Regions from separate parts of the Homo sapiens genome. Here region 1 is linked to region 2. The links come from fine-mapping of genetic effects on gene expression. A gene starts in region 2. The other region holds a variant in brackets. All regions are shown on one strand. Distances are between the middles of the regions.

Region 1 (5,374 bases), 130 kb before region 2:
ACTCTGTCACCCAGGCTGGAGTACAGTAGTGCAATTATGGCTTAATGCAGCCTGGAGAGGTCTACCCCAGGCTCAGGTGATTCTTCCACCTTAGCCTCCTGAGTAGCTGGGACTACAGATGCATGCCACCACACCAGGCTAATTTTTCCTTCCTTCCTCCCTTCCTTCCTTCCTTCCTTCCTTCCTCTTTCTTTCTCTCTGTCTCTCTTTCTTTCTTTCCTTTTTTTGAGACAGGTTTTGGCCATGTTGCCGAGGCTGCTCTCGAACTCCTGGGCTCAAGCAATCCTCCCACCTCGGCCTCCCAAAGTGCTGGGATTACAGGTGTGAGGCACTGCACCCACCCAGCCTTATAGCTAAATATCTCTTAGGCTGGTCTAACCATAGAGAAATGTAATCAATGGCTTTTGGGGTTTACCTGCTAGTCCACTCTTCTTGCATCCGAATTGGTTACCAGAACACAGGGTGATTAATAAGACATTAGACCTGGCCCTTACATTTCCTGGGAGAAGGGCATGTCCCTTTTAACAAAAACACAACTTTCATCTTTGGATTCCCAGGTGATCCCTATTTGCATTTACTGGCGTTTGTCTTTCGTAAGGAAGCAAGAATGCAAAGCTTTGTAACTCAGCACAGCGATACTCAAGAGTTTCTGGATGCTGGGAGGACATTAGATAGGTGATGAGTTCTAATTATTCAATTTTTAAAAAAGACTCATTTTCTTTGCTCTTTTGAACTCCACTGAGACACTTGAACAGAAAGACAGGGAGCCCTTATGCTACCTGAAGAGTTATATGAAAAGAAGTTTCCAGTGCCAATACCTCTGCATTTCCATTTACCATGTGACCTGAAAAGCAATATAAAGTAACTATACAGAGAAAAAAGATCAAAATGCAACACGCCAAAGTGGTTGTCTTTCTAAGTGGGAAAATGATAGGCAACTTAAGTTTTTGTCTTATTTTTTTCCTAGATTATTTACAGTGAATATGTACCACATTTAGAATAATAAAAAATCATAAAGATATTTCAGAATTAATAATTACCATTATGTAGGGATGGGGGATAGTGGGATATGTACGTGCCCATGAGTAACCTTTTTCTTCCTACATTTTTGGATTTCCACAATAATATGAACTCATGCTTTGATATATGCTGTGAAAACTTTCTCTTTACACATCATGCCCAGATCTGCAAAAAACATTAGGCTGGGATTTTCTGTAGAGTTACTATGGCTACTTGCTTTCTCTCTCTCTCTGTCTCCCTCTCTCTCTCTCAAACACACATGCACACACACACACACACACACACACACACCAGGCTTATAATCTCTGGAGCAAAAATGGAGTTGGGAAAACAGCAGCTGATCCCACAGCGAGCTCAGCACACAGAGCAGGCTGCACACCAGCCCCTTCGGAGCTACTTGCTTCTGAAACAACTATATTTCATTGACATTAAAATCCCTTTAGCAATGGGATGAGGTAAGCGCCTGGGTGGGTGCCCCCTGCCATGCAAGAGGAACAGCTGTGGGGATGGAGCATGCTGACTCATTGCCGTCAGCCACATGCTGCCTGGGACCAGCTCACAGGGAAGACTCCAGAAACCGCTGCTCCTGCTGACTGGGAACATACCCTAGAGGTCACCTCCAAAGGGCACCCCTCTCCTTGTGGGCCCCTGGCATGCGCCCTTGCTGTCTATCCTGTGAAGCCTTGGTGTGGAATCTGGCAGGCCTGACTTTAATTCTGGCTTCCCCTGTGTGCACCATGTGTGGTCTTGGGCAGTCATTTACCCCAGGGTTTCTTGGTGACATCCCTGCACCACCTGCACCAGAATCATTTAGACACTTTACTAAAATACTAGTTCCTGGGCAGTATTCCAGACCTATCGACGCTGAGTCTTCAGGGCAGTGCATAAGGGAATCTGCCATATAACAGCTCACTAGGTGATTCTCGTGTGCTACATTTTGAGACCCAGCAGAGTATCAGTTTCTGCCTCTGCACAATGAGGCCATTAATACCTTCCTCAGAGGTTGTCTTGAGGATTATAAATAGATGACATAATTATGTTCCTGGTAGGAATGCAGTAGGTGCTCGATACATGGTAGGGGGTATAAAATGGTTGTTATTACTTAAGCTTCTCCAAAAAGAGTCAAAACCCTTTGCCTTTATATGAGGGAAGCACTCTGCAAATATAGTGCTTGGTTCTCTGTACACCTGAAAGGGAATCAAGAAGTGTTCCCACAGGGCCAAGCCAAAACACACTCTTAAAGTCCGGCTCCACACAGATAGAAATGGGCTTCAGTTAACTTTAATGGGATGTGGTGGGATGGCCAGAGCACTTTTTACCTTCGTGCCAGGTATACTTCTACACCCCAGGATCTGCACAGTTTTTAATGCCTCTCGAACATCTTTTCACATAAAGCACTCAAGCCTCTCAGCAATCACACAAGGAAGGGAGGACGAGTATGATGGAAGCTTCTTCACAGAAAATCTTGCAGACATCATGTTCTTGGCTGTGTTTTGCTCACCTTGTCCAGCTGTCTATGAAACTCTAAGGACTTTCCTAAAATGTCCCATTTTTTCTTGTTTCCATTGATGAAATCGTCACAGAGGTGCCTGAGCTCCACACACCGGGGCCTGATGGCATCTGCTGCATAATGGTGGCTTTGGATGAGCTGGTCCCCAACCAGTGCCAGCAGCTGGGCCTTTTCCAGGGGCTCCTGCAAAGTGAACACCCACAGCCAGGCGTCAGAAGTCAGAGCATCATGAGGCTGAGAGCTGCCTGGTACTGTGTGCTCCAAGCCTGGAGGGAGGCTGTGGAGATGCTAACCCAGGATGAAGGCTGGAGAACCTGAGAAAGCTCGGAATGGTTCCAGGCCCAGGAAGTTAAGCCTGGCCCAGAGTTGTCCACATGCTGAACAACAGCAGTCATTCATTCAAATACCTGTTGAGTTCTGGGCTAGACATCGAGGATATAGTGTTAACAAGCCCAAAATTTTCAGATTAATGGAGAATTCAGATATCAACTAAATTACACAAATCGTTAAATTATTACAATTGCAATAAACTCTAGGGCAGAAAAGCATGGAGTGCACATAATAAGAGATTTTGAATACCCCTATTAACTAAAGGAACAAGAAGAGGGACTGACACCTGTCCTTGAGGAGAGTGGGGGGTGAGCTGAAGTTGAAACACTGGTGAAAATTGGATTTGGACAACTCAAAGGTGGTCATGACACTTAAGAAATATGCTTGTCTAGGCTGGGCGTGGTGGCTC[C/G]CACCTGTAATGCCAGCACTTTGGGAGGCCGAGGTGGGCGGATCACCTGAGGTCAGGAGTTCAAGACGCGCCTGACCAACGTGGAAAAACCCCGTCTCTACTAAATACAAAAATTAGATGGGCGTGGTGGTAGGTGTCTGTAATCCCAACTACTCAGGAGGCTGAGGCAGGAGAATCGCTTGAACCCGGGAGGCGGAGATTGCAGTGAATTGAGATTGCGCCACTGCACTCCAGCCTGGGTGACAGAGCAAGACTCCATCTCAAAAAAAAAAAAAAAAAAAAAAAGAAATATGCTTGTCTAAACCCTTTCCCAAAGCCTGTAAGGGCCCTGTCTACACTGACCCTGTCTGCTCAATCACATTTCCTACCTCTTTCTGCATGACACTTCGCTCTAACCACACGTGCCAAGTTTTCCTGTTTGTTTAAGCATTCCTTCATTCATCCTTCTCATATTATTGAGAACCTGCTATTTGCCAAACACTGTCATAGGTGCTGGGAGTTCATTGGTAAAGAAAGCAGGCAAAAACCCCCACCTCATGAAATGAAGCTTACATTTTAATGGGAGACAGAGGCAATAAACAAGTGCATGTGTAGGTCATATGGTATCTTAGACAGTGATGAGTATGTGGAGAAAAATTAGATGGTGGGGAGGGCAGGGAGTGCTGGAGCTAGTATTTTAAATCGGATGGTGAGACAGTCTCCCTGAGAAGGAGTACTCAAGCTATGCAGAAAAGACTTCACATAGAAAGCCTGAGACTAGGCCGGGCTGTGGTGGCTCACGCCTGTAATCCTAGCACTTTGGGAGGCCGAGGCAGGCGGATTGCCTGAGTTCAGGAGTTGGAGACCAGCCTCGGCAACACAGGGAAACCCCATCTCTACTAAAACAAAAAAAATTAGCCAGGCATGGCAGCATGCGCCGATAGTCCCAGCTACTCTGGAAGCTGAGGCAGGAGAATTGCTTGAACCTGGGAAGAGGAGGTTGCAGTGAGCCAAGATCGTGCCACTGCACTCCAGCCTGGGTGAGAGCTAGGCTCTGTCTCCAAAAAAAAAAAAAAAAGAGAAAAGAAAGCCTGACACTACAGCCTTAGAAAGAAAGACCCGATTTTAAGATTGGCCCTTTGTTGGCATCTAGGAACTTAGATTTTTGGGAAGGTTTCCTCCATTCCCTGATGTGAATGGTTCATGATCCCTGAACTGTTTGTGCAAACAGTATGGTTTATGGTGATTACTTGCTTTTTCTTCTGGGAGTCTGAAATCTTGGTACTTGCCAGACAGAAGCTGCTGACATGACCAGCCACCAATAAAACCTCTGGGCATTGAGTCTCTAATGAGCTCCCCTGGTAGACAACATTTCACACATGTTGTCACAACCCACAGACGGGGGCAGGAAGTATGTCCTGTGAGACTCCCACAGGAGAGGATTCTAAGAAGCTTGTGCCTGGTTTCCTCCAGACTTCACCTCGCATGCCTTTCTCCTTTGCTAATTTTGCTTAGTACTTTCTCATCTTAATAGATCATAACTCTAATACAGCTACATGCAGAATCCTCCTAGTGAATCTTCGAAGAAATGTGTGCATGGTCTTGGGAGCGCTCTGCATACAAGCTGAGACCTGAAGTCAGGGACAAGCCGTGCAGTACTTGGCTGGGAGGTGAAGGCGTGTTTGACAAGTTTGGGTAGCAGGAAGGAGGCCAGTGTGGCTGCAGCAGAGGGAGCAAGAAGGAAATGAGTGGAAGACTAACTAGAGGAAAGAGGGGGTTCCATAGCCGGGGTGAGAGGAAAGCCCCTGGGTTTGGAGGGAGGATCTCGATCATGTTTTTGAAAGGACCACTCCCGGTACAGTGTCCAGAATAAGAGGAAATGCAGGGAGACTCATTAAGGGGCTGCTGCAGGAATCCAGCCGAGAGATACGGCTTACGGCTGGTCACCAAACTAGCTCCTGACTCGACCCTTCTCTGGATTGTTCTTCCCTGGGTCATGCAGAGCTGAGTTCCTGGGTCACCTCCTCACAGCGCTTCCCTGGCGACTATATCTTAAGTCATTCTCTACAACCTATTCGCCCAGTCACCTAGGCCCTCTCCCACACTTTAATTCTTTAACAGCATTA
Region 2 (5,374 bases):
TCGAGATCACACCATTGCACTCCAGCCTGGGCAACAAGAGCGAAACTCCATCTCAAAAAAAAAAACAAAAAAGATGATCCTCTCTGAGTCAATTCCTTCATTTGTAAAATAGGGGTAGTAATGAGTACCCCACCCATTTCACAGGTTTTATTAGATTAAGTATGAGGAGACAGAATCTTGCAAAGCACACAAAAGCCAAGGGTCATTAGAGGTTGAAAGGAGAAACTACAACAAATTCCTATGTGTATCCTGCATGGAGCTGTCTATAGAAGGAGGGAGGGAGCAAGGTAGGCAAGAAAATACCATAGCCTGGGCGCCACAGGCAGCTAAGTGTTAGTCAAGGAATACTGCCTGCCAGATTTTCAAGAAGAGCCTGCTCCAGAGAAATAGGAGGGACCTTTAAAATCATCCAGGTCAACCCCTCGTTTAACAGATGGGAGGCTTCGCCCTGAGAGAGGCCCAGTAACCCACCAAAGATCTTTAGTGGCGTGACAGAGGGACCAGGGATATGTCTAATAACTGAAATGTCTGTATAATCACAGTGTACACAGTATTTCTACCCAAATTATCTTACTTATCTTCACAAGTAGCCTTTGAGCTGAGTGGGAAAGTACTATTAAAATTCCTATTTTTCAACCTGAGGTCGAATGACTTGTCCAGGGAAAGATTCAAATCCAGACGGTCACACCCCGAGTCCACTGCTCTTTCTCTATACCACAACTTCATGCCTGTGCTGGGTTTTAGCACAATCATTTCAACTTTCATCATATTGCAGATTCCGAATTCTGTTTCATTACAAGTTCTTTTTCCTCTTATTTCACACTGCCTTCAGCAATATTTCACATTCAACCTTACCTGGTAGGATCCTACTGATCTTTTGTCGTAAAAGTTCAGTGCCCACAATTGGCACCAGAAACTTTTTTCTAAACTTGAATTATCAAAACTGGGCCTTCCCATATAAATCATCTTTACAAAGTATGTCCTCACAAGTGTATCATTTGAGATGTGCACGATTATTACAGCAAACACGTTGGACTAATTGAGGCAACATTTAACATGCAAGTACCAAGAAAGCAGCTTTCACAAATGTGTAGAAAACCAAGGCAAATAGTTCCTGGCTTTATCAATAAAAGCTGATTTGCATTCATGGGAGGACCTCCAAGCACAGTCAGCAACAGAGAAAATGATCCCGATAATTCCAGTTGCCCACATCCAGAGGTTCTGAACCTGAATGTGTGTCTTTACTGAGGGAGGTCCAGGGAAGGCCAAGGGGAAGAAAGTGCTAAGAAAAAACTGACTGGGAACTGTCTCAATGTCCTCTTGCCCTTACTTAGTCTGTGGGGCCTGACGTTCCATCACAACCCTTATTTCAGGAGCAAGCAATGCATGTTTTGCTCCTCTTTTCAACTCAGGGAAGAAGATTAAAATTGCTCAGTCTCCTTGGCTTGCAGAGATTTCTCGCGGGGATCATCAGGGGTGTGCTTAACCCTCCAGGCAGCACAGTAAAACAGGCCTAGCGGCCGAGCTGCGCAGGGGCGCTCCCATGTAACCTGCCTCTCCCTGCACTTTCTTATAAACAAGCCTTCAGTGGCGTGGCAATCATTTCTGCTGAAAAGCACTGGCATTCGTTCCTCTTATGCCCTCTCCTTTCTCACTATCCCCAAAACCAGAACATAACTTCCCACCCACCCTACTCCCGTCAGAAGCAGCTAACGGATGGTAACAGCCCAGCAGCCCTCGGTTTGGAGCTCAACGGACTCGGCAACCACCTGGTGAAGGCACCAGCCTCGGCCCCCCGACCCCCACCAGCGGCGCGCCCCAGGGATGCCCCCCGCTGGGCACCGCAGGCAGGACCCAGAGCAGCGAGGCCCAGATGCCGGGCAACCCCCCAGGAAGCGCGCTGCCCCGGGGCAGCGGGTGAGGCCAGGAGCCAGATGAAGCCCAGAGACCATCCTCACCCGCCATTAATAAAACGCAGGAAAAATTAAAGCTTCGTTTACCGACATGAGTGATCACTGTGGCCAGTCGCCGGGTGAGCTCCTGGGGAGGCATCTCTTCTTTTAAGCAAGACAGCATTTCACTGAAAAACCATTCCGTATAAATAAAGCCAAACAAAACTGTTTCTACCGCTGCGGTGGATGATTTTTTAAAGGCATCTCCGCCCAAGGATGCTCTGCCCTCGCCCTCTTCCTGGCTCTCCAGGCAAGAAACGAGAGTCCCTCGCAGCCTAGGCCAGCTCTCCCTCGCCACGCCCCGCGGGGGCTCCCGTGACAGACCAAGTCTGGCGCTTTCCCAGCGTCGCAGCTGGACCGAGAGAGGAGCGGCCGTTCTGCAAAAGGAAGCAAGTCGCCAATCTCGCCGGAACCGCGCCCCGGCTCCTCCGGCCGGGCGAGCTCCGGGGCTTCCAGAATCGCGGTCCCGGCCGCCAGGTTTCCGGCGCCGCCTCCAGGGACTGTAGAGTGAGGGATGCTCCGCCAGGTGCAGGGGAGGCGGCAGGTGGCCGTGGCTTCTCTGCGCCGCCGGCCCCACGCCCCAGCGCCCACCTCGTCCAGCCCACGGGTGGCGCCCGGGGCTCTCGGGGAGGCACGCACGCTCCCAAGCGCCGCTCGTTTTGGGGTCGGGAACGCTGCGCACCTTTCCCTGCGGGGAGCCCGCGCTCCACCCCCGGAGTGGAGCTCCGGTCCTTACTCGGAACCGTGGGGCGGGGAGACAGTGACTGAGGCGCTCCAGTCGCACCGGGGTCCGGATCATCAGACGCGCGCCGGCCAGGTCTCCGCCCCTCCTTCTTCCGCGCCGGGTGTCTGCGGAGGAGCCGCGGAGAGAAGGGGGCTGGCCCGGAGAGCTGCCGCCATCCGGCAGGACCCGGAGCGGGAGGCTGGGTGAGGCGCCGCTGCTTGCCCCACCTCCTGACCCCGGGGGCGGCTGGCGTGTGTTTTCCCCCACTTGGGGTTGTTCCACGCAGTTCTTGACCTCCGCTGGCCACACCTGCACTGGGAGCCCGGCGCCCGGGCTGCGCTCCGACAAGGCTGAGCACGCGTGGGCGCGCTCACCCCCTATGTGGGCGTTTTCCTTCGTGCAGCTGCGCCCTTGCCTCTGCTCCGTCTGTCACCTGTCAGGCACGCCAGTGCTACCTTCTGGAGGGGCTGTGGCACATCCTCCATGCTGGTCCTCCTCCCCATCAGCCCATTATCCCGTGGTTTCCCTAGTTGGGCCCAGACACTTTCTGACTGGCAGCAAAAGACTAACCCCAGTTCAGCAGAGCGCTACGGGAAACGCCTGAGCAAATGCGAATTCGGTCAGGTTGTCCCCCAATCCTTTCTACAGCGGGAGTCCCTGAATACTCAGCAGGCGGAATGGCGGGACCACCCAGGCGGATGTTCTCAGCCATCTCTTTCCTCTTCGATATGTAAAAAGCCAAGCCGCAAACACCCTGGATCCAAATTCTAGGAGTAGCCACCCATCACAGGGGGCTGAGGGTATTTTTTTAATGCTTTCTCTTTTCTTCTTTTTTTTGGAGACTGAGTCTGGCTCTGTCGCCCAGGCTGGAGTGCAATGGCGCGATCTCAGCTCACTGCAAGCTCCGCCTCCCGGGTTCACGCCATTCTCCTGCCTCAGCCTCCCGAGTAGCTGGGACTACAGGCGCCCGCCACCACGCCCGGCTAATTTTTTGTATTTTTTAGTAGAGATGGGGTTTGTTTCACCGTGTTAGCCAAGGATGGTCTCGATCTCCTGACCTCGTGATCCGCCCACCTTGGCCTCCCAAAGTGCTGGGATTACAGGCGTGAGCCACCGCGCCCAGCCCTTTTTAATGCTTTCTCTAACAATTGTGGGCTGTGATTGAGAAGCGAGGTCAGTTCACCTGTGTCATGAGATTTGTGGAGAGGTTCTTCCCCCTGTGAAGTTTGGGCACTTTGCACTCTGCCTGCAAAACAGAGCAAGGATTTTCTTTTTCTTTTCTTTCTTTTTTTTTTTTTTCGTTTTTAGAGATGGAGTTTCACCATATTGCCCAGGCTGGTCTCAAACACATGGACTCAAGTGATCATGCCCGGCCACTGAGCAACCATTTTCACAACCACCTTTTGCAAGAGATTCAAAAAAGGGTTAAAAGGCCGGGCGTAGTGGCCCACGCCTGTAATCCCAGCACTTTGGGAGACCAAGGCGAGCGGATCACAAGGTCAGGCATTCAAGACCAGCCTGGCCAACATAGTGAAACCCCATTTTACTAAAAATACAAAAATTAGCTGGGTATGATGTCACGCACCTGTAATCCCAGCTACTCGGGAGGCTGAGGCAGGAGAATTGCTTGAACCTAGGAGGCGGAGGTTGCAGTGAGCCAAGACCGTGCCATTGCACTCCAGCCTGGGCAACAGAATGGGACTCCATCTCAAAAAAAAAAAAAAAAGAAAGGTTAAAGATCCGCAGGAGGGGAGGCAGCTTTTGAATTATGTTTCCGGCGTTCAAGGGTCACAAGAATTTTCAAGGAACCAAATGAGATGTTTCCTACTGATAGTAGTCAGAACCCTGGTGCCCAGTCACAGCCAACTGTGAGTTTTGGTCAGCAGAAACCAACGCCTAGTAAAGAAGACAATGATGTGGGGTATGTTGGACTTGGAGTGTCAGAGCCACTTTGAAGATCCAGTAACCTCAGCTTCCTGGCTTAGGCCGGGTCCTTATGGGTGAGAAACATGAAAAGGAAGAAGAGAAGGAATGGAGGAGAGGAAAAGGAGGGAGGAGAAGCTTATGATTAAGAATGAGAACAAAAAGAAAACAGAAAGGAAATAAATCACACTCAGAGTGCTGCCCACATCTTTGGTACTTTCACAGTCCTCAAAGGTTTCCATGGAGATAAATGAGCTCAAGTTATGGTGAGATGTAGCAGGCAGTGCCTATCCTCAGAAACTAATTCTGCTCTTATCTCTGACACTTACTCTCTCAGGGCCTTCACTGCTTCCCCTGGGCAGTAAGGAAGTGGGTCTGTGATCTCCAAGTTCCCTTTTCCAGCTCTGAAATCCTATAACTGGAATTAAGAAGAAATGATCGGCTGGGTGCATTATCTCACACCTGTAATCCCAGCACTTTGAGAGGCCGAGGTGGGTGGGTTATCTGAGATTAGGAGTTCGAAACCAGCCTGGCCAACATGACGAAACCCCATCTCTACTAAAAATACAAAAATTAGCCGGGCACGGTGGTGGGCGCCTGTAATCCCAGCTACTCAGGAGGCTGAGGCAGGAGAATCGCTTGAACCCAGGAGGCAGAGGTTGCAGTGAGCCAATATAGCACCACTGCACTCCAGCCTGGGTGACAGAGTGAGACTCCATCTCAAAGAAAAAAAGAAGAAGAAGAAGAAGAAATGACCACATAGTGTTCAATAGCT

Evidence for each region. PIP is the estimated chance that this variant, and not a neighbour inherited with it, causes the effect.
Region 1: its variant is the best candidate, but not a certain one, in a credible set for the expression of MCF2L2 in skeletal muscle (GTEx, PIP 0.79).

What each region holds. Positions count from the first base shown.
Region 1 is chr3:183,297,484-183,302,857 of GRCh38, forward strand. It overlaps MCF2L2 (MCF.2 cell line derived transforming sequence-like 2), which reads right to left. Exons shown (of 30, transcript NM_015078.4): 11 at 2,522-2,713. Among named protein-coding and RNA genes, the nearest start is that of B3GNT5, 47 kb to the left of the region's middle. RefSeq lists an enhancer at 1,398-1,692. The variant C/G (reference allele first, on the strand shown) is at 3,270.
Region 2 is chr3:183,425,902-183,431,275 of GRCh38, forward strand. MCF2L2 (MCF.2 cell line derived transforming sequence-like 2) reads right to left here and starts at 2,718. Exons shown (of 30, transcript NM_015078.4): 1 at 2,001-2,718. The coding sequence starts at 2,076. RefSeq lists a silencer at 2,468-2,547.